7 linked regions of the Homo sapiens genome follow. The protein of the gene in region 2 purifies or fractionates together with the protein of the main gene of each other region. This does not show direct contact. Each region holds a gene or a part of one and is shown on either strand. Other genes may lie near its edges.

What was found.
Region 1: the proteins of ANKRD50 (region 2) and ACSBG1 purify together in Homo sapiens (affinity purification with mass spectrometry; one large-scale study listed by BioGRID and IntAct). This does not show direct contact.
Region 3: the proteins of ANKRD50 (region 2) and CWC25 purify together in Homo sapiens (affinity purification with mass spectrometry; one large-scale study listed by BioGRID and IntAct). This does not show direct contact.
Region 4: the proteins of ANKRD50 (region 2) and MYO1E purify together in Homo sapiens (affinity purification with mass spectrometry; one large-scale study listed by BioGRID and IntAct). This does not show direct contact.
Region 5: the proteins of ANKRD50 (region 2) and TLE2 purify together in Homo sapiens (affinity purification with mass spectrometry; one large-scale study listed by BioGRID and IntAct). This does not show direct contact.
Region 6: the proteins of ANKRD50 (region 2) and HABP4 purify together in Homo sapiens (affinity purification with mass spectrometry; one large-scale study listed by BioGRID and IntAct). This does not show direct contact.
Region 7: the proteins of ANKRD50 (region 2) and ESF1 purify together in Homo sapiens (affinity purification with mass spectrometry; one large-scale study listed by BioGRID and IntAct). This does not show direct contact.

What each region holds. Positions count from the first base shown.
Region 1 is NC_000015.10:78,231,766-78,235,847, forward strand, and holds the start of ACSBG1 (long-chain-fatty-acid--CoA ligase ACSBG1), read right to left. Parts: upstream 2,801-4,082; 5' UTR 2,737-2,800; coding exon 2,606-2,736; intron 1-2,605. UniProt on the Homo sapiens protein: Catalyzes the conversion of fatty acids such as long-chain and very long-chain fatty acids to their active form acyl-CoAs for both synthesis of cellular lipids, and degradation via beta-oxidation.
Region 2 is NC_000004.12:124,702,733-124,706,232, forward strand, and holds part of ANKRD50 (ankyrin repeat domain-containing protein 50), read right to left. Parts: intron 1-3,500.
Region 3 is NC_000017.11:38,818,822-38,822,321, forward strand, and holds part of CWC25 (pre-mRNA-splicing factor CWC25 homolog), read right to left. Parts: intron 2,253-3,500; coding exon 2,080-2,252; intron 1-2,079. UniProt on the Homo sapiens protein: Involved in pre-mRNA splicing as component of the spliceosome.
Region 4 is NC_000015.10:59,226,372-59,229,871, forward strand, and holds part of MYO1E (unconventional myosin-Ie), read right to left. Parts: intron 1,220-3,500; coding exon 1,088-1,219; intron 1-1,087. UniProt on the Homo sapiens protein: Actin-based motor molecule with ATPase activity. Unconventional myosins serve in intracellular movements. Their highly divergent tails bind to membranous compartments, which are then moved relative to actin filaments.
Region 5 is NC_000019.10:3,008,781-3,012,280, forward strand, and holds part of TLE2 (transducin-like enhancer protein 2), read right to left. Parts: intron 2,381-3,500; coding exon 2,242-2,380; intron 923-2,241; coding exon 762-922; intron 166-761; coding exon 89-165; intron 1-88.
Region 6 is NC_000009.12:96,463,669-96,467,168, reverse strand, and holds part of HABP4 (intracellular hyaluronan-binding protein 4), read right to left. Parts: intron 1,833-3,500; coding exon 1,671-1,832; intron 1,460-1,670; coding exon 1,391-1,459; intron 1-1,390. UniProt on the Homo sapiens protein: Ribosome-binding protein that promotes ribosome hibernation, a process during which ribosomes are stabilized in an inactive state and preserved from proteasomal degradation.
Region 7 is NC_000020.11:13,716,373-13,718,919, forward strand, and holds part of ESF1 (ESF1 homolog), read right to left. Parts: coding exon 2,536-2,547; intron 1,143-2,535; coding exon 996-1,142; intron 1-995. UniProt on the Homo sapiens protein: May constitute a novel regulatory system for basal transcription. Negatively regulates ABT1.

The sequences.
Region 1 (4,082 bases), on a different chromosome or scaffold from region 2:
TTTAGCAGAGACAAGGTCTTGCTTTGTTGCCCAGACTGGTCTTGAACTCCTGCACTCAAGCAATCTTCCTTCCTTGGCCTCCTAAAGTGCTAGAATTACAGGCATGAGCCACTGCACCTGGCTCTCTCTGACTTTAGAACAATGTTTTACAAGAATTAAGTTCTTTTCTCACAGCTGCTCTGCAAGAATGTCAGAGCAGGTTTAGCTTCCCTGTTTGACAGATGGGGAAACTGAGGCTCAGAGAAGGTATCTTGCCAAGGGTCACAGAATGGGTTAGGAGCAGAGCTGGACTGGAACCCAAGGCATGTGACCTCCAGCCTGCTGCTAAGAGTGTTGCTATGAGAGTTACTATGCCTGTGATGGGTAACTCTTATGCTTTGAAAACATTTTCATACACATTAGCTGATGGAATCCACCCAATTTTTCTGCAATGTCAATGAAGTTCAGGCGTTGTATATTTATTTGTACAGAGGATGCTATTGAGGCTCAGAAAGGTTAAACAATGTATCCAAAGTCACTCAGCAAGAAAGTAGTAGAACTGACACTCCAACTCTTGGGTTTTTAGCCTTTCTCTTTCCCTACGGGGTCCCAAGACCCATTTACCCTTTCAGGAGGGAGTCCTTCTCTGCACAAGCCTAGGGTTCTGCCTCAAGTTTGCCTACTTTCCTTCAGTGATGTCTGCAAAACAAGCCCAGTCCTCTGTGAGCTTTGCAGGGCACACAGGACCCTCTGCCACCCCTTTTCACCACAGGCCTGAGACACAGGCTCCTGTGGCCCTGAGCCCCACTTGGCCCCTCACTCACAGGGAGCAGAAGACCCTGAGATCCTGCAGACCTTGATTTTGTTTTCAAAGACTCCCCTGGCCCTGGCTGTCCTCATGCCTGTCTACCCCTGCTCTGGGCACATTTATTTCTTTTTCTTCTTTTTTTTTTTTTTGAGAAGGACTTTTGCTCTCGTGGCCCAGGCTGGAGTGCAGTGGCACGATCTTGACTCACTGCAATTTCCACCTCCCGGGTTCAAGCAATTCTCCTGCCTCAGCCTCCTGAGTAGCTGGGATTACAGGCACGTACCACCACCTGGCTGTTTGTATTTTTAGTAGAGACAGAGTTTCATCACATTGGGCAGGCTGGTCTCAGAACTCCTGACCTTGGGTGATCCACCCGACTCAGCCTCCCAAAGTGCTGGGATTACAGGCATGAGCCATCATGCATGGCCTCTGGACATATTTCGATGTGCTCCTCTGAGCATCTCGCCTGGCCTTCCTGCTCTCTGAGCCCACAGACCCCAGGGAGGAGGGGAGGTGCCAGGACACCGGGGCCCAGAGGAGATCCTGAATCTGCCCTTGGGTGAGGAAGTCAGTCCAGCTTTCTTCCAGGGGCCCTTGACCCTCTGTGCACCTGACCTATGCCCAGGGAGGGGCTTGCCCTCATGCTCTTGGAGGCTTTGCAGGGAAGAGTCCCTGCTTCTGGAAGAACAGGAGTCCACTTTGGATTAGCAGGGTTCTCTGGAGACCCAGGGCAGGGCCCAGATGCCAGCCCTCGGAGGGGCCTCTGCATCTCTGAGGCGCATTAACATCTGTTCCCATTTCCCTCTATCTTCCTTCCCCATAACCTTCCATCAGGACAGGGGCTGTAGTCTTGGTAGCTCAGACACTGGCAATTCCTCCCCATTACTACAGAGGACTTGGACCCTGGTATTTAGCCCCTGTCCTCCCCAGTTCTATGCTTCCGCCACCCAGACCTCTCCCATCCCCAAACTTCCTGTCTTGCTTTGTTAGGTCGTTCTCTCTGCCCACTGCTCTTGGCTCCACTCTGACCGTCAAGGTCCATCTCAGGCGCCCCAGTTAGAAACCTCCTTCTCTCTGCCCCTTCGCCTGCGCCCCTCCTGGACACAAATCACAGATGTTGGGGTCCTGGAGTTCCGTGTGTGTGCGTGTGCGCGTGCGCCTGCCTTCTTCCTGCCTTCTGGCCAGGGCATCCCAGGGCTGGGACTGAGTCTCATCTTCTCAGGATCCCCTACTCCCTGGATGGACAGGGCCTGGGCCAGGGTGGGCATTGGTGAATGCCTGATACGTTGAATCCACTTCCTCTAAATCACAGATTACTGGAATATATACAGTGGAAGGGCTTTAGGGAAACCTCAGCCACTGCACTCATATTCAGACAGGGAAGCTACAGCCCACGGAGGGCAAAGGCACTTGCCAAGGTCACGCAGCAAACTGGAGCGGGAACCTCTGGGTCCCCACCAAAACTTATCTGTCTTTGACCCCCGCAGGCAAAAGTCCCCCTTGAGGAGACAGGGAAACATTCTTGACTGAAAAATTCCTCCTCCATCCAACTGAGATCCAACTGGTCTCCAACTGCAGCCCCAGCTCATACCCCTGGGATGTGCCTCATTCTTTGATGAGCCTTTCTTAGCCATGCTAAGTAGCCCTCCAAATGACCAGTTCTTCCATCTTACGGATCGCCCAGATCCTTCCCTTCATTTCCCAGGTGAAGAAACTGAGGCTCAGAGAGAGAAGCAGCTTGCCCAAGTTCACACAGCAGAGCAAAGTCTAGAACTCGGCCCACAGGTGCAGTGTGCAGAAACCCAACCAATGACTTACCTGGTTTTCAATTTTTCTTGGGTGGTCCTCACAATCATGTCCTGCCGGCTCTCCTGTGGGGTCTCTCTGCTGTCCAGCATGCTGGGGTCCCCGTGTGGGCAGCCGTATCCAGCTCCAGAATTGCGTGGCATCTGCCTCGGGCTTCCACTGAAGACAGCTCAGTCACCCACTGAGAGAGGCTAGCCTTGAGTGAGCAGTGGGGGTGGGCATGGGGCAGGGGAGGCGGCAACTAGAGTGACCCAAAGAGGCTCATTTCCTCTCTATTTTTAGAAGCTCAAAAAAAATTGCTCCTCAGTGAAGTTTCTCAGAATTAAAACTTTCCTTTTCTTTGTGGTTTTGTTTCTCTCAAGATGAGGAGAATTTCAATGAAGCCAGTGTTCTTTTTGATGCAAATCCGCTCCGCTTCTCCCAGGAGGTCTGGCCAATGGGCTCAGGGCTTCTGGGCCCCCAGAAAACCTCCTCACTGGCTTTAAAAGGTCATAGTGGTTCTCAGCACAAATCCAGACCCAGATCCTGAAGTGGCTGCTACCCCTGGCTGCATACACTCTGCAACCTTGACTTGCGGTCTGCCGAATGCTGCCCTGGGAGGGATCTCACCCACTCAGTCCCCCTCCCCCAGGTCCTGCATGGAGGCTGGAGACCCAAGGAGGGAGCCCACCCCGGGGGAAGGAAGGAGACATTTCCAACACTGAGACCACGCCACATGGTCTATAGAAGCAGTTGCACTGAAGACATGATAGAGGCAACCGAGGAATGTGACTTTCCAGGGACACATGAATAGAAGCCTGGATCTGTCCCTTCTTCTAAAGGAAAGAAGCATGTTAAGGGGGGCGGGGGGGTTTCAGGCAGCCATAAAGAGATGGGAAATTCACACAGGACAAGGCCTTTTTCTGAATACCAAAAGTCTCCCCTCTAAGACCATGTATTCATTCCCCAGGGCTGCTGTAACAAAGTTCCACAAACTGGATAGCTTCAAACAACAGAAATGTATTCTCCCACGGCTCTGGAGGCCAGAAGTTGGAAATGAAGATGTGCGCAGGGCCACACTCCCTCTGGGGGCTGTGGGCAGACTCTTTCTTTGCTTCTCTCCCAGCTGCTGGGGGTCACTGGCCATCCTGGGTGTTCCTTGGCTTGCATGTGCATCTCTCCAGCCTCTGCCTCTGTCCTCACGTGGCTGTCTTTCCTCTGTGTCTATGCCTTAGTACATTTTCTGTTGCTATCACTGAATACCTCAGACTGGGTAATTCATAACGAAAATAGGTCGGGTGCGGAGGCTCATGCCTTTAATCCCAGCACTTTGGGAAGCCAAGGTGGGAGGATTGCTTGAGCGTAGGAGTTCAAGACCATCCTGGGCAACATAGTAAGACTTTGTCTCTTCAAAAAATAAAACAGAATTAGCTGGGTGCCACGCCGTGGTGTGCACCTGTGGTCCCAGCCACTTGGGAGGCTGAGGTGGGATGATCACTCAAGCCTGGGA
Region 2 (3,500 bases):
GTGTTCTAAACATGTATTCTTGTGACTATTTGTTCAATGTATTTTACCTCACTTAACTTAGTGTTCTGCTTGGCTCAATACTTTAGCCCTAATACTTAGTACACATCTAACACATAGTTGACACTGAATACTTGATTAAGAAATAAATGAATCATCAATGAATAGAAATGCTTCAAGAGAAGTTAGTTTAAACATAGGTTAGTGAGGGACTACCAAGTGAAAGGATACATATTGATCAGAATGATAAGGCTGTTGATGCAGATTTGATTGCTAATAAGATAGCAATCAAATCTGCGTCAACAGCTTTATCTATGCATTGGTAGCCATGTAAGTAAATAAAATAATTGAAGGCATATGTGTAAAGAGAGAAGATCTAAGCTTGTGGGGCAAACACCCAGAGAGGACCCAGAGGAAGGTCCACCAAAGAATGGAGTCAGTGCGAGATTCTGAAAGAAAAAAGTACAAATACTGAAAAAAAATACCTAAAATACATCATTTAAAGCCTAAAGGCAAATTGAGCAGTACGTTCACAGGCAATCATGCATAAACATCTTTCTGTAAATGTGTAGAGATGAACGTTAGATTTCAGCAAGCTAGGAAGAAACTGATGGGGAAGAGGAAGGGAAACTGATACGGAAGAGGAAGCAGCGCTTGCACATACGAACTCTAGACAGTATGAGAGCAAATTCTGGGAGTGATAAAAAATGCAGCATTTTTTTCAGAGGAATAGAAAACATATTTGTCCTTGAAAATGACTATAGGAGCCAAGCTGGCACATGTAAATACATGAACTGGTCCTGCTATAGAATAATAGAGCATGGTGAAGGCTGAACCAAATTAGAGCATGCAGGGCTTATATAAAGACAGCAGCTGACTCAAGTCTGTAAGATTACTGCCTCAAAGGAATGAGAACCAAGTACTGTCAAAATTTCCAGGTTTTTTTTTTTTTCAAGAAAAAGCAAAAATCTGGATATGTATATGAAATTTGCTGCATTGGGGTAAAAACATCCCATACTCAACTTGTAGAGCACCACTTCACTCTCTCTGGTCTAAAAGGAATCTGAGTTATCAAACAATAAATTGGACTGCAGAACAGAACTAAGAATGTGGCTAACTTCAAAGTTCTAAGTATGCAAACAGGAGCAATATGTTATGTCATTAGAGCAGAAGTGATTAGAGGTTGAGGACTGGTTCAGCAAATGATAAAGAGTACCAGGAACCAAAGGAAGCAGCACTTAGATTGAAATATAAAAGGAACAGACAAGCTAGGGTAAAAAGAAAAGATTTTCAGAAGGGAAAGTGGGAAGATTTGAATAAACAGAAGTTTGTATCTTAAAGTAGAAAGGACATAGTTAAAAGTTGGAAACAATAGACCATTCAGTGAAAGGTGATGATCTTTAGACTAAAAGACAAACATGTAAAGTTTTGATTATGAAATTATATTGATTCACTTATTTTATTTAAAACTTGAATAGTAATGGGACTTTAGAATAATCTTTTAATTTGACAATACTTAAGAATAGATAATGACAGTTATTTTAAATAGCACTAGTTATACAAGATTGATTACGAATGTAATATATTTTGCCTTGAAAACATACAAGTGAGGGTAAGAAGGAGGCACACATTCCAACCCCCTTCTGTTCTTCGCCTCTTTGTTGAGTGCCAAAAATCCTTGGAGCCAGTTGAGACAGGAGATAGATATCTGGCCACTTAAAACTATCTGGACTAATGCCATATTAATACATGGTAAAGAACAGACAGCAGGTTAACAAATTAATAATCACTATACCAGTCTGGTCTGCATTTAAAACTGACCTAAATCACATAACATTTCAATTTCCTTTCTTATTCAAGAGCTTCAGCCTTCTTTCAATTAGGTTCACACATATTCTAGATAGGCAAGTAGCATTATGCACTCATTCAAAAGACAGTCATTTAACAATTATTATATGCAAAGTGCTATATACAAAGCACCATGGTAAATATAAAAAATTCATCAGTCATGAATAACGTTATGAAGAAGCATATGCCTAATAGGGAAGATAACAAAAGATATATACATAAATAACTACAACACGGCTGGGCGCAGTGGCTCACGCCTGTAATCCCAGCACTCTGGGAGGCCGAGGTGGGTGGATCACGAGGTCAGGAAATCAAGACCATCTTGGCTAACATGGTGAAACCCTGCCTCTACTAAAAATACAAAACATTGGCTGGGTGTGGTGGTGGGTGCCTATAGTTCCAGCTACTTGGGAGGCTGAGGCAGGAGAATGGCGTGAACCCGAGAGGCGGAGCTTGTAGTGAGCCAAGATCACGCCACTGCACTCCAGCCTGGGTAACAGAGCAAGACTCCATCTCAAAAAAACAAACAAACAAACAAACAAAAAAACTGCAACGCAAGCTACAAACCTAAACAGATATAAGTGAAGATCCATAAATGCTCCTGGAGGAGATAAGATTAGAAGGATTATTCAAACATTCAATGATTCCCATTTGACACACAAAACAAATGTCAGTATTTGGTCTCCCAGTTTGCACTCTTTTTCAAACAAGGCATACTGCCTTTCACCATTAGCACAAATTTTCTATTAAACTCTCAAAACTTAGAGTTATTCATCTTTAATTCTTTATTGCAATTTTACTCCATTTACACTTAACCCGTGTTACCCCTGAAGATATTTAATTTTTCCTATTAACATTACACAGAACAAAATATTTCTACCCAACATAGGAAAACTGACATCACATATCTGGTCCTGCAGACTGTTAACAAGAAATAAAAGTGAGGTAATGACATACACTAAGAACAAAAATTTGTATTTCCCAACACCATATCCTTTTAAATCTCCAAAACGATTTCTGTTCAAAGTCCAGAAAGGTGTTTCTGGTTGATTGAAACAGCTATCTTCTAAACCAGCCACAAAACCTAATGCTACCACCCTCCACCCCTCACTAACTTAGTTGCTTGAGTTTTTTGTCAAAAATAATTGGAATTTGTTTTATAATTATAGGACTACTAGGAGTCCACCTCTAACACTAACTCTAGAAAAGACACAGTCAATGTAAAATATACAAAGTTTTGCACTAAAGGCCTAAAGTGGGAGGCAGAATTAAAGAAATCAGCCTTTGGCTCTCAAAGTAAGTAAAAATATAAACATCAACTTAGTTTCAGAAATGAGGAAATAAAATATTGTAAAGAAATTAACAATAGCATTGTACTTTAACCAGATACGAAAAATAAAAATGAAAAAAAGATAGCAATGTGTCTTCATATCATTCCCTTTAGCAGATCACAAAATTCTATTAATGTTTAAATGTTCATGTGTTTCATGAACACTGTAACAAGTATTTACTCTGATGGTTATTTCTCTCTATATGAATAAGATAAATATTAATGTTAGAATTTGAGTTCCATGAAGGCAGAATTCTGTCTGTTCTATTCCCTGATTTATCTCCAGCTGAACTCTACCTAACACACAGAAGGTTCTTAATAAATA
Region 3 (3,500 bases), on a different chromosome or scaffold from region 2:
CTGGCTCCTTTCTCTACAGTTGTGCATCTGTACTCTGACCTCATTAATCAGACTCCACAAAAGCCCAAATTTCTGATAAATTGAGCACATGATGTGTAATGCTTTGGTGAATAAAAATGTCAAAACAATTTTTACCTTTGGATAGTACCTCGGCTTATGACTAATGGGTATTCAGTCTAAAATCAATTTTTACTTATTTATTTATTTATTTATTTACTTAGAGGCAGAGTCTCACTCTGTCACCCAGGCCGAAGTCAGTGGCAAAATCATAGCTCACTGTAGCCTCGAACTCCTGGGCTCAAGCAATCCTCCTACCTCAGCCTCCCAAGTAGCTGGGACTACAGGCACATGCCACCATGCCCAGCTAACTTTTCCTTTCTTTCTTTTTTTTTTTTTGAGACGAAGTCTTACTCTGTCACCCAGGCTGGAGTGCAATGGCGTGATCTCAGCTCACTAAAACTTCCAACTCCTGAGTTCAAGTGATTCTCCTGCCTCAGCCTCCCGAGTAGCTGGGATTACAGGCATGTGCCACCATGCCTGGCTAATTTTTGGTTTTTTTTTTTTGAGACGGAGTCTCGCTCTGTCGCCAGGCTGGAGTACACTGGCGCAATCTCAGCTCACTGCAACCTCCACCTTCTGGGTTCAAGCGATTCTCCTGCCTTAGCTTCCCGAGTAGCTAGGACTACAAATGCATGCTACCACGCCCAGTTAATTTTTTTTTTTTTTTTTTAGTAGAGATGGGGTTTCACCGTGTTGGCCAGGCTGGTCTCGAAATCCTGACGTCAGGTGATCCGCCCACCTCGGCCTCCCAAAGTGCTAGATTACAGGCGTGAGCCACTGCACCCAGCCTCTATTTTTTTTTTGTTTGTTCGTTTTTTTGAGATGGAGTCTCAATCTGTCGCCCAGGCTGGAGTGCAGTGGCATGATCTCAGCTCACTGAAACTTCTGCCTCCCGGGTTCAAGCAATTCTCCTGCCTCGGCCTCCTGAGTAGCTGGGATTACCGCCACACCCAGCTAATTTTTGTATTTTAATAGAGACAGGGTTTTACCATGTTGGTCAGGCTGGTCTCGAACTCCTGACCTCAAGTGATCTGCCCGCCTCGGCCTTCCAAAGTGCTGGGATTACAGGCGTAAGCCATCGTGCCTGGCTAATTTTTTTCTATTGTTTTGTAGAGATGGGTTCCTACTACAGACTGGTCTAGAACTCCTGGCCTCAAGTGATCTGCCTGCCTCAGTCTCCCAAAGTGCTGGGATTATAGGCATAAGCCGCCACACTCAGCCTATATATTTTTAAACAGAGATGGAGCCTCACTACATTACCCAGACTGGTCTCAAACTCCTGGGCTCAAGTGATTTCTCAGCCTCCCAAAATACAGCAATTACAGGCATGAACCACCGCACCTAGTCCCCAGTTTTAGTCTATCTGTTATTTTATTTTATTCTGACTTAAGAATACACTGCATATTGTATGCTTTTTATTTTCTCAAACATATTTACTCCCATCTCCTTTTATGAGATGGATGGGGTAGTTATTATCTGCTACTCGTATCCTATATTATACAACAGGAAATTGAAGCAGGGTAAAATCTAGTGGCATTGGCCGTAATCACTCAGCTTTTATTGACAAGCATACCATCCACCTTCTCTCATGGGACCTCACTCCCTGCCCCCTGTCCCCGCCGACCCAAGCAAGCCTGAAATACATTAACAAAGGCAGGACTGCATCCTCAACATATGCTGAGAAGCAGGGTAGAGCAACCATCCTCCATCACGGTTATCAGCCATCTACTGTGAGCTCGGCTTACAGCAAGTCCTTACGTGTTATCTCATTTGATTCTCAACAAACCTTAAGAAGGCGTTGGGTATTATTACTCCCTGGTCCTACTGAAGTAACCAAGTCTCTCAAATTTGATCACAGTTCCACAGCTAGTACATGCAAAGCCAACCTTAGAATCCAGGTGAGTCTGGCATTACAACCCATGCCCTTAAGCACTCAGCCATTATACAACACTGGATGATGCATCTCAGGACAGCTCTGCAATTCCCTACACACAAGCGCACCCCCAGCTCCTCACTTACTTGACGGCCCCAACATCCTCCGCATAGCGCTGCATCTCTTCCCGGGCTCTCTCTTCTCGCAGCTCCCGCTGAAGCTCCTCAATCTTCTTCCGCTCAGCCTCATGCTTCTGCTCGGCCTTCCACACTTTCTCCACATTCCTGAGGGTCTGCGGGTGCCAGCTCTTCTTCAGATTCTGTGGTAAATAAAAAGAAGGTGATGATAATTCGGGGGGTGACTGAGTGGTGGGTATAACTAGCCCTGCCTCACCCACCCTTCCATACCCAAGGCAGGCGTGTGAGGGCAAGATGTCTTCAACAATGGCAAGGTTTTCTTCCAATAATCTCTCACACATCTAGAGGGGAAGGGGAGCTTGTTCAAGTGTATAAAGCTTCAGGACAGGTCGGGCGCAGTGGCTCACACCTGTAATCCCAGCACTTTGGGAGGCGGAGGCGGGAAGATCACTTGAGGTCAGGAGTTTTAGACCAGCCTGGCCAACATGATGAAACGCCTCTACTGAAAATACAAAAATTAGCTGGGCGTGGTGGCAGGTGCGCCTGTAGTCCCGGCTATTCAGCAGGCTGAGGCAGGAGAATCGCTTGAACCAAGAGGCGGAGGTTGCGGTGAGCCGAAACTGCGCTGCTGCACTACAGCCTGGGCGACAGAGCAAGACTCCGTCTCAAAACAACAAGAACAAGAACAAGAAAGCTTCAGGATAGAACGGGTCCTTCCTGAATTCCCTTCAAACAGTTTTAACCTTAAAAGCATACAAGTCATCCTTCCACTAGCCATACCTAAATCAGAGTTGGTGATGACAAGACAGGAGGAATGCAGTAATGAGCAGGAAGGCACATATTTTGAAAGAGAACAGAACTCATGCACTTCTGACAGTGGACATTCATTCTTTTTTTTTTTTTTTTAAAGTCTTACTCTGTCACCCAGGCTGGAGTGCAGCTATCTCGGCTGACTGCACCCTCCGCCTCCCGGGTGCCAGCAATTCTCCTGCCTCAGCCTCCTGAGTAGCTGGACTATAGGCACGTGCCACCATGCCTGGCTAATTTTTGTATTTTTTAGTAGAGATGGGGTTTCACCACATTGGCCAGGCTGGTCTCAAACGCCTGACCTCATGATCTGCCCGCAGTGGCCTCCCAAACTGCTGGGATTACAGGGGTGAGCCACCGTGCCCAGCCTTTTTTGTTTCTTGAGACGGAGTTTCACTCTTCTTGCCTAGGCTGGAGTACAATGGCAGGATCTCGGGTCACGGCAAACTCTGCCTCCTGGGTTCAAATGATTCTCCTGCCTCAGCCTCCTGAGTAGCTGGGATTACAGGCATGCGCCACCACACTCGGCTAATTTTGTATTTTTAGTAGAGATGGGGTTTCTCTATGTTGGTCAGGCTGGTCTCAAACTCTCGACCTCAGGTGATCCGCCTGCCTTGGCCTCT
Region 4 (3,500 bases), on a different chromosome or scaffold from region 2:
AAAAAACAGTGACCAGGTCTTTCTTCGAAGAAAGTCTAATGTGGATCTTCAATATAAAATACTAATAAGTAAATAGAACATAAAAAATTTGGTTATTAACATCATTATATTTTTTAAGTACTTAAAAACCTTTTACAAAAGTACCTGAATCAGGGCCAGGTGCAATGGCTCACGCCTGTAATCCTAGCACTTTGGGAGGCTGAGGTGGGTGGGTCACTTGAGTCCGAGAGTTAGAGACCAACCTGGGTAACATGGTGAAACCCCACCTCTACGAAAAATACAAAAATTAGCCAGGTGTGGTGGCATGTGCCTATAGTCCCAGCTACTTGGGAGGGTGAGGCAGGGGGATCATTTGAGCCCAGGATGCAGAGGTTGCAGTGAGCCAAGATTGTGCCACTGCACTCCAGCCTGGGCAAGAGAGCAAGACACTGTCTCAAATAAAAAAATAAATAAAATAAAAGTAGCTGACTCAGATGACTGCTGAAGCCTGTAACATAATCAAAAAGCACCCTGCAAGCTGCTCTGGCCCCAAACTCTCCATGACTTCTGAGGGTCTAGGTGGCAACTTTTCAATTTGGCATTAAAGATCCCAAACCTATCTCAAATCTTTCCTCCGGTAGCTCACGTTCTGGAGACGCCTGCCCTGCAGGCAGGCTGAGGCCGGGCTCCCTGACTGGCTTTCCCTCTCCCACCTCCACTGCTTTGGTGCAGGTCACCTGTCTTCCCTCATCAATCCCCTCCACTTTCCATCCGGGCTCTACCTCCTTCACACCTCTCCTACTATCCGGCCAAACCTGCCCACCTGAATTCCTTTGGCAAAGACTCCAACACTCCTCGTTTTGTTTTGAAGTTACATCAATACTTTCTTGATGATTTAGCTTTGGAGGAATTTCTGTCTTATCACTCCAATTAGAACTCACTCTCCTTGAGGGCAGGACATTCTCACAATTCTGCACATTGACTTGTACATGGTATCATCATCAGTCCTCCCTGGCTTCCTAGACTATAGTCTATGCCTGAAGTCTGAGAAATATTTTAATGTAGAGAAGGGACAGGAAGTGGGTAGGAAAAAAGTAAACAGGAAAACCTGGTAAAATATGTGAAAACTCCGCTCTCCTGGGTTCCTCATCACCACCCTAGATTTTTCCAGAAGGAAGTTGGAGATCTTTCCACCATCTGGTTCCCCACCTGGACTGAACTGGATTTCAAAGTATTTTCCCTGCAAGAAAGTTAGGGATTTCCTTCAATGGTTGGTGAACAAAACATGATGTCCCAAACAGGCTTTGAATACAGTATATAATTCAAGGAAATTCATTAATAAAATACACATTCTGAATTACTCCTAATTTGAGTCTAGACTTCCTTAGTTTTCAATCAGACAATAACCCGTGCTTTTGTCCAGCCACACGATTCTGTTAGAGAGAGCACCTATCATTCCAGCATGACTAAATAAGGATATGCTCTATTCCTTGCTCATTTTCCCCCAGTAGGTGCCTGTCTGCTCAACCAGAAGGTGTAAATCATGAGGCAGAAAAATGGCATGGCACCCTTTCAGAGGAAGAGCACTCTTGCTCTGTCAGGCTTCATCTCATGGCTTTGAGCAAAAACACTCAATCTCTCTTACCTACGGAGCATCTAAAATGTTTATCTAGAACGGAAACACTTTATTAAAAGTAAAGTTCTTTCTAGCTACTGACGGGCCTAGGGATTTTTGTCACTGTCATTGTTATGAAAATTCCTCTTTAAATGACTGCTAATAGGGAACAAAGGAGAATAAAAACCTAGACTGTAGTTGAAAAGGTATCTAGGTTGTTATATTAATTATATATAGCCAGGCGCGGTGGCTCACGCCTGTAATCCCAGCACTTTGAAGGCTGAGGCAGGTGGATCACTGGAGGTCAGGAGTTCGCAACCAGCCTGGTCAACATGGTGAAACCCCATCTCTGCTAAAAATACAAAAAATTAGCTGGGCATGGTGGCGGGTGCCTGCAGTCCCAGCGAGGCAGGAGAATCGCTTGAACCTGGGAGGTGGAGGATGCAGTGAGCCGAGATCATGCCACTGAACTCCAGCCTGGGCCAGAGAGCGAGACTCTGTCCAAAAACCAAAATAAAATGAATCAAAATTATATATATAATTATTATAACAATTATTATATATATTTCATATGTATATTTAAATTGGTTTTTTTTTCTCACTAGAACTTAATTTGTCTCCTGTGCTTAGAAACTTAAGCACCCTCAGAGGCCAGAAGGGTAAATACGGATAAAGGAAAAGAGGGAGTGGTGTGGTCTATGGTCAAACTGGAGAAGATGCCCAGCCTCATCGCATTCACATTTAATAACATAAAAATGTGTATGCTGACTAAATCCACCCATCTCAGGGATGAATTCAGCTGGGTTTTATGTCTGTGACTGGAGCTGTAAACTCATTAAGGGCAAGAAAAGTACTGTGCACACTGCAAATGTGTGAGTACATGCCGTGTTCCTGTTCGTAATTATTCTAGGTGTCAAGAAAGACCACCGAAGGCGGCCAGCCTCTAACTGTCTATGTGTCTTAATCTGATGATTCTTTTCCTCCAGGCAAAAAACAAAAACACCCAGCAGCACCAGGCACAGAGAACCACCAGCCATCGCTCTGCGGAATGTCAGTGGCACCTGAGAAAAGCTCACTGAAAGAGAGCTCCCGTGCTTCCTTTGGCGGCCACCTTCACCACCCTTTCCTTTTGGCATGTGATAGAGGGAATACTTCAGTGCCTGTCCCCCATTCCTCAACAGTTGAGGGAAAATGAAACCAAACAGAACATCTGACCCAGGAAGGGCAGGTGTTGGACAGGCAAGCTCCCAAGTCCTCCTAGCAGCAGTGCTCAACCTTGGATGCCCCTTAGAAACACCTGGGGAGCCTTTCCAACATGCTGTCAGCCCAGGCCACGCACATCAGACTCTAGGACCAGGGCCCGGAGCTGTGTGGTTTTCAAAAAGCACCCAGCTGATTTTTATGTGTGGTCAAGGTTGAGAACCACTGCTCTAACATAATAAAATGCATATGCATGGCTCATAATTGTCATATAAAAGTTAAAATTTCTAACAAAAGGTTAACATATTTAGGACTGCTGTATAGCAGCCTGGGGGGGATGACAGGAAATTTTATAAAGGGAATAAAAGGTTGCATTTGCATTTTGATAATGAAATGAAAAGAAGTTTCACCTCGACTCTTGGTAATGATTTATTTCCTAAGCTGGGTGCCAGATACATAGATGTTCATTGCATTGTTTTTAAATCGTGTTTGAAGTATTTCGTAATACATTCTTTAACTTGAAAAGATTTGTAAGTGTTAAATATATACATTCTTATGCTTCATAATACCTGTGCATTTTTTAAAGTGAAATTACTCATAATTCTACCCTGATGCCACTTCTTCATTCTCTTGCTAAATAATTACTGTCATAGATGTCAAACTTTGATTTACATACCTCTTAGTTACCTTTCATATAATGTGCACA
Region 5 (3,500 bases), on a different chromosome or scaffold from region 2:
GGAGACCCCAACCACAGAGGGTAAGACCTCAGAGGAGGTGGGGGGCTGGCCCGGGACCCCAGGCAGGGAGCCCCACCCTGGTACTCACGGCTTTCCCCCAGGGATGCTGGGTAGGGAGGAAGAGACGGATGACCCTCGGAGATGGGGATGAGACTCAAATGCCATCTGTGAGAATGCCAGGGGGGTGTCAGTGAGGCAGGTGACTCCAACCCACCTCTGTGCCACCCCACGCCCACCTGCCATACCCCTCTCTGTTTATCACCCCTCCCCAAGGCAGCAGAGATGCCTTCTCTCTGCCTGTCACACTACAGATGAGAGGGCTGAGGTTTTCACTTGAGCACACCGACACCAAAATCTCTATCCAGGAAATCCTAGAACTCCACGGTTCCAAGGATCCTGAAGGGTTCTCCATCCAATGCCCAGACTGGCTCTAGGCCAGGGTTCTGAAAACTCCAGCCCCTCCCAGGACAAATCTGGTCCACTGCCTGTTTTTGTAAACAGTGTCCCGAGGCCAAGGCCCTACTGCTCCTCTTCATGCAGCTTAATCGCTGTTGCGTTTTTCCACAATCAGAAGTCTTGCTTTGTATTAAGCTTGTGGGACTACTGAGACCCCCAGATTGTCTTCCCATGCATACTTGCTGAGCCAGGGCTCCCTTCCCTTTCTGCACTCCCTTGTCTCTCCTTGTGTAGTTGGTTTCTCCTCCCGGCCCCCAGCCCCTGGGCCCTGCTGACACCTCCTGCGCCCCCACCCAAGGACTCACCACGGGGGAGCGTCCGTACACCACAGAGCTGCTGACCTGGGGGGACAGGTGGAGGCTGACGTAGGAGCTGGGCACGGAGAGGTCTCCGTTGAGAGTGCTGTGGGAGCCCAGGCTGAAGGACGTGGTGAAGGGACTGGACAGAGTCAGGGGGCTCCTCAGGGCTGAGACGGAAGAGTCGGGGACAGGTTTTGACGCCCTGGACCCAGATCCCGCCTCCCACTGCCTTGGGAGCTCCCTGGCCTTTCATTTAGAGTTTCCATGTGCTGGTTCCACATTGGCCATAGCCTGGGACACCTCCAGACCTCTGCACTATCGTTCCTCCAGTGGACACGACTTTCTCTCTCTCTTTTTTTCTTTTGTTTGAGATGGAATCTTGCTCTGTCGCCAGGCTGGAGTTCAGTGGCGCGATCTCGGCTCACTGAAACCTCTGCCTCCTGGGTTCAAGCAATTCTGCTGCCTCAGCCTCCTGAGTAGCTGGGACTATGGCCATTCTCCTTCTTTTAATTGGCAAACTCCTATCCATCCTTCAAAACCCAGGCCCACCGAGCACAGTGGCTCACGCCTGTAATCCCAGCACTTTGGGAGGCCGAGGTGGGCGGATCACCTGAGGTCAGGAGTTCAAGACCAGCCTGACCAACATGGTGAAACCTGGTCTCTACTAAAAATACAAAAATTAGCTGGGCATGGTGGTGCATGCCCGTAATTCCAGCTACTCAGGAGGCTGGGGCAGGAGAATTGCTTGAACCTGGGAGCGGGAGGTTGCAGTGAGCTGAGATGGTGCCATTGCACTCCAGCCTGTGTAACAAGAGTGAAACTCCGTCTCAAAAAAAAAGGAAAAAAAAAAACAAAACCCAGGCCCAATGTCCATTAACATCTCAGAAACATCCTTGAGCCTCCCCATTGCCAACCTCCAGCCCTGCCCATCTTGGGTACCTGCCTTGGTACCAGCCCTGACTATACAGGGCTGTGAGTTTTGGGGTCTGGGTCCTGTCCCTTTTTGCCACCTGGGAGTTCCTTGAGGGCAGATTCCAAGGCCAGCTTCTTTCAGGGGCCCCAGAACCAGCCCAGGGCCTGACCATAAGGCAGAAAAGATGAGCACTGTCATTCCTCAGATTACTGATGGGGAAACTGAGGCTCAGAGAGGTTGGGTCACTTGCCCGAGGTCACCCAGCTGGTGAATGCCCAAGCCTGGTCTGAAACCCAAGTCTGTCTGGCCCCAAAGATTGTCTTTCCAGTGCACTAGGCTGAAACCCCCGACTAAGCCGCTTCCACTCTCCAGGCCTCAGTTTCCCTACCCGCCGAGCTGACACAATGAGGAACTGCCCAGAGGGAGGCAGCGTCTAACTTGAAGTCACAAAAAGGACCAAGGCAATGAACACCAAGCCTGGAATCCCAGCATTCTGCCTCTCCAGCCCCTTTTCCTAGATCTCCCCAGAGACGAGGCCTGCTCCAGACAGGCACCAACAGGCAAGGTGCTCACCGACGCTGTCCGTGGAAGGTGCTGGCTTGGCAGCAAGCTGGCAGAGGTGACTGGCCGAGCTGGGCCCGGGGGTGGAAGCGTCCTGGGGCGGGGAGGAGTCACAGGATTTGGAGGCAGGAGTGCTGGCGGGAAGGTCATTCTGCAGAGAAAGGGCAGGACTGAAGGCCACCAGGCACCTGGTGTCTTGTGGCCCAACGATCTGATCAGAAACTGGGGTTGGGGGCGGCCAGTCGCAGTGTCTCACACCTGTAATCCCAGCACTTTGGGAGGCCCAGTCGGGCGGATCACCTGAGGTCAGGAGTTCGAGACCAGCCTGGCCAACATGGTAAAACCCCATCTCTACTAAAAATACAAAAAAAGATTAGCCGGGCGTGGTGGCATGTGCCTGTGATCCCAGCTACTTGGGAGGCTGAGGCAGGAGAATGGCATGAACCCGGGAGACGGAGCTTGCAGTGAGCCGAGATCACGCCACTGCACTCCAGCCTGGGAGACAGAGCGACTCCATCTCAAAAAAAAAAAAAAAGACTCTGTCTCAAAACAACAACAGGCCAGGCGCAGTGGCTCACGCCTGTAATCCCACCACTTTGGGAGGCCGAGGCCGGTGGATCACTTGAGGTCAGGAGTTTGAGGCCAGCCTGGCGAACATGGTGAAAACCCCATCTCTACTAAAAATACAAAATTAGCTGGACGTGGTGGCGCATGCCTGTAATTCCAGCTACTTGGGAGGCTAAGGCAGGAGAATTGCTTGAACCCGGGAGGCAGAGGTTGCAGTGAGCCGAGATCACGCCATTGCACTCTAGCCTGGGCAACAAAAGCAAAACTCTACAAAAACAAAAAACAAAACAAAAAAAAGGCAACAAAGTTACAAAGTTATAGGCTGTCAAGATTTGCAATTCTTTTTTTTTTTAATACAGGGTCTTGCTCTCAAAACTAACATGATCAGACAGGCGCTGTGGCTCACGCCTGTAATCCCAGCACTTTAGGAGGCCAAGGTGGGCGGATCACCTGAGATCAGGAGATCTAGACCATCCTGGCTAACACAGTGAAACCTCGTCTCTACTAAAAATACAAAAAATTAGCCAGGCGTGGTGGCACGTGCCTGTAGTCCCAGCTACCCACTACCCGGGAGGCTGAGGCAGGAGAATCTCTTGAACCTGGGAGGCAGTGGTTGCAGTGAGCCAAGATTGCGCCACCACACTCCTCCCTGGGTGACAGAGCGAGACTCCATCTCCAAAACGAAAAACAAACAAAAGGCACGA
Region 6 (3,500 bases), on a different chromosome or scaffold from region 2:
GGTGGATTACCTGAGGTCAGGAGTTCGAGACCAGCCTGACCAATGTGGTGAAACCCCGTCTTTACTAAAAATACAAAAATTAGCCAGGCATGGTGGCGTGCACCTGTAGTCCCACCTACCTGGGAGGCTGAGGCAGGAGAATCACTTGAACCTGGGCAGCGGAGGTTGCAGTGAGCCGAGATCGCGCCATTGCACTCCAGCCTGGGTGACAGAGCAAGACTCCGTCTCAAAAAAAAAAAAAAAAAAGCTTATATTCTTCAAAAGAAGAAAAGTGGAAGCCTGGATCCCCTCAAGCCTCTGCACTAGCGGGAAGCCTGCCCTGTAGCACTGCTCACACTGCACTGCCTGCAGCATGCCCTACCTCTTCTTCTGCAGACACCAGGAAGGCATCATCCCTCCAGCTGTGAAATAAAACAGAGCAGAACCATGTATCCACTCTAACTAGCAGAAGAATTGGCACAGATCTAAGGCACCATGAAGCCTCAGAGAAATGTCCAACTTGAGCCTCAGGTGAAACCTGTCACTAAGCTTCAATCTACAAATGATTTTATGAAATGAAGATGTGTCAAGGATCCACATGAACTTTGAAAGGTAAAAACATATAGAATATCCAGGAATTTAAAAAGCATTTTAGGCCAGATGTGGTAGCTCATGCCTGTAATCCTAGCACTTTGGGAGGCTGAGGCAAGAGGACTGCCTGAGCCCAGGAGTTCAAGACCAGTGTGGGCAACATAGTGAGATCTTGTCACCATTTTAAAAAATAATGAACAAAACAAAAAGCTTTTTTTTGTTTTTTTGAGATGCTGTGTCTCGCTCTGTCACTCGGGCTGGAGAGCAGTGGTGCCATCTCGGCTCACTGCAACCTCTGCCTCCCAGGTTCAAGCAATTCTTCTGCCTCAGCCTCCTGGGTAGCTGGGACTACAGGTGCCTGCCACCATGCTCTGCTAGGTTTTGTATTTTTAGTAGAAACGGGGTTTCACCATGTTGGACAGGCTGGTCTCAAACTCCCGACCTCAAGTGATCCGTCCACCTTGGCTTCCAAAGTACTGGGATTACAGGCGTGAGTCACCGTGTGCAGCCAACAAAAAGCATTTTGAGGCATGTGCAAATGTACAGTGCCATATGTTTGAGGCATCAGCAAATACATGGTCATCTGTCACAAATTTGTTTGGCTAAAGTAATAGAATTTTAAAAGCAGTTTAAATCTAACTGCAACATAGCAAACCTGTTTTAAAAACTTATCTCACGAAACAAAAGCCTAAAATCAATCTCTACTTAGGGGCACACAAGTATAAAGCACAATACAGAAGACATCATTTTCAAGAAAAGCAAAGATCCAGAGATTTCCACTTAATTGCAGGTTCTCAGAGGGCACACACTTACACCGTACCTGGTATCTTTACCCGATCCCCAGGTTCGAACTCCACATCCACCCATGTTGTCTTCAGTTCTGACTGCTCTACGGAAAGAAAGAATAGTCCCTTAAACCAGAAGCTAGTCTCCAGTCAATCTCCAAATCAGAAAGAGTGGTTCATAAAAGTCCCAGGATCAGCTTCTCACAAGAATAACAGCACAGTACTATAAAGTTAACTAAATATTAACACATAATAGATTCATACCACGTGCTGACACCATCTTAAAGTGAAAATAGCATTTACAAAGAAACTTACATTTTGTCATTCCCACCATATCTTTCAAATTCTCGCTTTCCTCTCTGGTCAAAAGCGTCAAAAACTCTGTTCCCAGGGCCACCTCTGCCTCTGCCGCGCATACCCCCTCTCGGGCCTCCACGTCCTCTCAACGGTCTGTCTCGATCAAACCTATCACCTGGTCTAGGAAGGAGTGGATATAATAAAAACTGGTAAATTAAAGGTCTAAGGTCTCTCCAGAAAAAAATTCTAAAAGAAAATCATGGTTATAGTATACTGGAAAGAATGGTGGCTTGAATCACAAATTAATAGTTAACCTTTAGTGAGCGCATACTATAGACTATATACCTGGCATTGTTCTGAGCACTTTACATATAGTAACTGGATTCTCACAAACAAATCTTTAATATACAATTATTGCCTATAGATGAGGAAACGGAAGCAGAGAGTAGGCTAAGTGGTGGGGCCAGTCCAGGAGAAGCAGGTGCTAGACAGGCATAGTACTAATCTGAATGGGGCATTCCTTTCTCTCTCTGGATCTAGTTTCCTTACTCAAAAAATGAGAATGTTGATAAATAAATTCTAACGTTCATTCCTGTTCTAATACCAAATCTTTAAGTTAAATTTGGAATGTTTTGTGTAAGAAAAATGGTTAAACTTCAAATTATGCCCCTTTCCAAATCTCCCTCCTAAACACACAACCAGCCGGTAACATTTGGAACTGTGAAAACCTTAACCTGCCTTCCACCTCATTACTCCACATAAACGGCCAAGGGCAGCTGAAGACCTCTTTAAGCCCAATAGCAACTTTTGTCTTCATGTCATTTGACCCCAGTGTCATATGACACTCCTGGCCACCAATCTTCCTGACTTTCTGGCTTCTCTTTTTCTGCCTGCCCTTAGAAAATTATTTTTGGAATAGATAATACCCAAACATGGTACAAAACTCACATTGTTCCTCAGCCACGCAATTCCACTTCTCAGAGGCAGCCAATTCAAGATTCACAGAAGGGAAAAGTTCTCCGTCTGCCTCTCGTGCCTAACCACTTGTCTTGGTGCTCTATACGGATACCCATCTGTCCTTATCCTTGTGGGCACTCTCACTTTTCTTTTATTAGAACCTTACTTTAGATTTCTTTTTTTGAGGCAGAGCCTTGCTCTGTTGCCCAGGCTGGAGTGCAGTGGCAGGATCTCGGCTCATGCCACATCCGCCTGGCCCCCCATGCTAATGCTAACTGGCCCTGTGTCTCTCATCTGATTGCAGGACATGAAGCCAGTTACTTCCTAGACATCTCCACCCGGACATCCCCAAGTCAGGCACACACATGCCCAACGCGGAGCCCTTATTCCTCCTGTGATTCCCAACTCACAATACGAGCGAGAGCCCAAGCCACTCCTCCCTCTTCTTCCTCTGCCACATCAGAGCCTGGACCCAGGACCTGATTGCCCACCCACTCCTCCCTGCACCGTCGCTGGGCACCAGCACTCTTTCTGAGGACTTGTCTCTCCTTCACTAAGCTCTAAGCTCTTTTTCACCATTGTAACAATAGTTTAATAAATGTTTTCTAATTTGGAAAGGCTTTTAAAAACATTTAAAATCACAAGAAATTACTTATTTAATGGAGGTCCTGGCATCAAGAAACCTAGTGGCATTAGTAGCTCAAACACCAGCAGTAGAGGTATGTTACAATCTACTTTTATGGCTAAAAGTGTTACATTAAGAAACCGCTATACAATAGTGGGTAAAAGTATACAAAACTCGCAATCTTCCTTACTCAAAAAATAAAGAAATACAGAAGTACTGATCATTAACGTCATGCCAGTCTCTTATAAGAAACACAACTTAAATAA
Region 7 (2,547 bases), on a different chromosome or scaffold from region 2:
CACACAGTGAGTGTGACCCACTGTGACATGAACCTGCTATTCAAGCATACCTTTGCTGGTCTGAGGATCACTACATGTGATTCTAACATTAAAAACTACACATTTTTGGTACAATATGGCTACCAAAATACAAGTCAACTATTTCACCTGGTGCTCAACCAAAGAAACAATGATTTCATCCACCCTAGGATGAACTGGCTGTGCTGGATTAAAAGACAGTAGCCTTTGGCTCCACCATCAGTCTTTCTGAAGACATTTTCTTTTTTTTTCTTTTTTTTTTTTTTTTGAGACAGGGTCTTGTTCTGTTGCCCAGGCTGGAGTGCAGTGCCACAATCATGGCTCACTGCAGGCTTGACCTCCTGGACTCAAGCGATCCTCCCACCTCAGCCTCCTGAGTAGCTGGGACTACAGGTGTGCGCCACTATACCTGGATTTTTTTTTTTTTTTTTTTTTTTTTTTTTTTTAGACAGAGTCTTGCTCTGTCACCTGGGCTGGAGTGCAGTGGCGAGATCTCGGCTCACTGCAAGCTCCGCCTCCTGGGTTCACGCCATTCTCCTGCCTCAGCCTCCTGAGTAGCTGTGACTACAGGTGCCCGCCACCACGCCTGGCTAATTTTTTGTATTTTTAGTAGAGATGGGGTTTCACCGTGTTAGCCAGGATGGTCTTGACCTCCTGACCTCGTGATCTGCCCACATCAGCCTCCCAAAGTGCTGAGATTACAGGCATGAGCCACCACGCCCAGCCAGCTAATTTTTTTTATTTTTCATAGAGATGAGGGTCCCACTATGTTGCCCAGGCTGGTCTCCAACTCCTGGACTCAAGTGATCCTCATGCCTCGGCCTCCAAAAAAGTGTTGGGATTATAGGCGTGAGCCACTGCACCGGGCCCCTAAGACATTTTCAAGGGTAACTTTGACTATGCTCAATTTCTATCTGCAGAGCTGACTTTAGATTCAATTCCAGCTTTAAGAGGCTATGCCTGGTGTCTATGGTTACCTCAAAGTCATCCTCTATTAATTCCTTCTTTTTCATGAGCTGCTTTTTCTTCTTTTTGCTCAGATTCTGGTGCTCCACAATCTTGTTGTAATTGAAGTGTTTCTTACTGTCCTCGTCCTCATCCATCATAAGCAAAGCCATTTCAGCCTGTAGAGAGCAAAAAAAAGTTCAAATGTACAACAGTGCTTTTTTTTCCACCCCCAAAAAGGAGTATAGGGCAGAAGATATCTCTTCTAGAAAGGAAGACTCAATCACTAGAACTCTGGGGTACCACCTGTTGTCTGTAAACTGACTGTGGATTACCAAAACAAAGAGATCTTTGTATAGCAATAAGGTAGAATCTCTGGAAGCAACATTACTGAGAGCAGGAGAGGTAAAACCTTGTAGTTAAAAACCAGGCCCCATTTCACTTAGTGTGACTCATTAGTAGGCTGCAGGAACAAGAGTCCCCAACTACCCTCAAATAAAAAGTTCTCATTTTCACTTTGTTCTTTTTGCGCAATGATGCTAAATCTAGCAAATGTTTATTTTGTGATGCAAATTATACTTTCTAAATGTGTAACTTTTAACAAGTAAGTTTTTTTTTTGCTTTTTTTTTTTTGGCCTTTACTGTTTCAATACTGATACATTTCTATGAAGGTAGGACCTTAGGATCTGCTTCTGAAATCTAGTAAATGTCTTTTTACACTAAACGGGTATTTTCTACCAGCCATGGGATTAAACGAGAACCCTCAAGAATCAAGTAAATAACCATGTACACTAGTAAAAATACAGAGTATGCTCTCGACCTTTGTGGATCTTCCTATATTACCACTTTAGACTGCCTTAATTTCCTTTTGTCACTGGCACTTTTAGCTGGCTTTTCAGAGACATTTTCCATAAAAATTGATTTTCTTTGTTGCTCTTTAGATAACTTTATGTGGCCAGTCAGGCACACTTCTGGACAGTGACATGAACATCAGCCCTAGGGGCACTGCTGCCTTCAATTCCTGCCTCAGCAAAATCACATATGACTCTGTGCCAAAATTACGTGTGACTCTGGACATAGGGGGTCACTGAAGCATAAGGTTCACTGCATTTCCAAGAATGTAATTTTGTACGTTAAATATACATATTCACAATAAGAAAAACAGAAATTTGCATTTGACAAACCATAACCACAAACTGTATTCCAGGACAGATTCAGATTGAATTAAAACTTATGGCAATATTATTTTGAGGTTTTAAGGGTATTTTCTGCCTCAGGTATAGTAAGTGTTTTTAAAAGTGAGATAATTCCCTCTTAATTTATAAAAGAAAATAAATACCCTTGAATTTGAGGTTAATTTTAACTTTGTACAATTTGGAGAAATTATGTTTGGTAAAAAAAACACTGTATTTAGAAACTACACTGCTAAAATATTTAATTATGTCTCTTACAATTTAGTTATAAATGCCACTGCTAAAATAAGTTGTTTTTTAAAATTAGTGACATGTACAACTTCATTTAAATTGTACCTATGAATTATCCACTAAGCATGTAACAATAATCGTATTTTACCTTTTGTCTTTC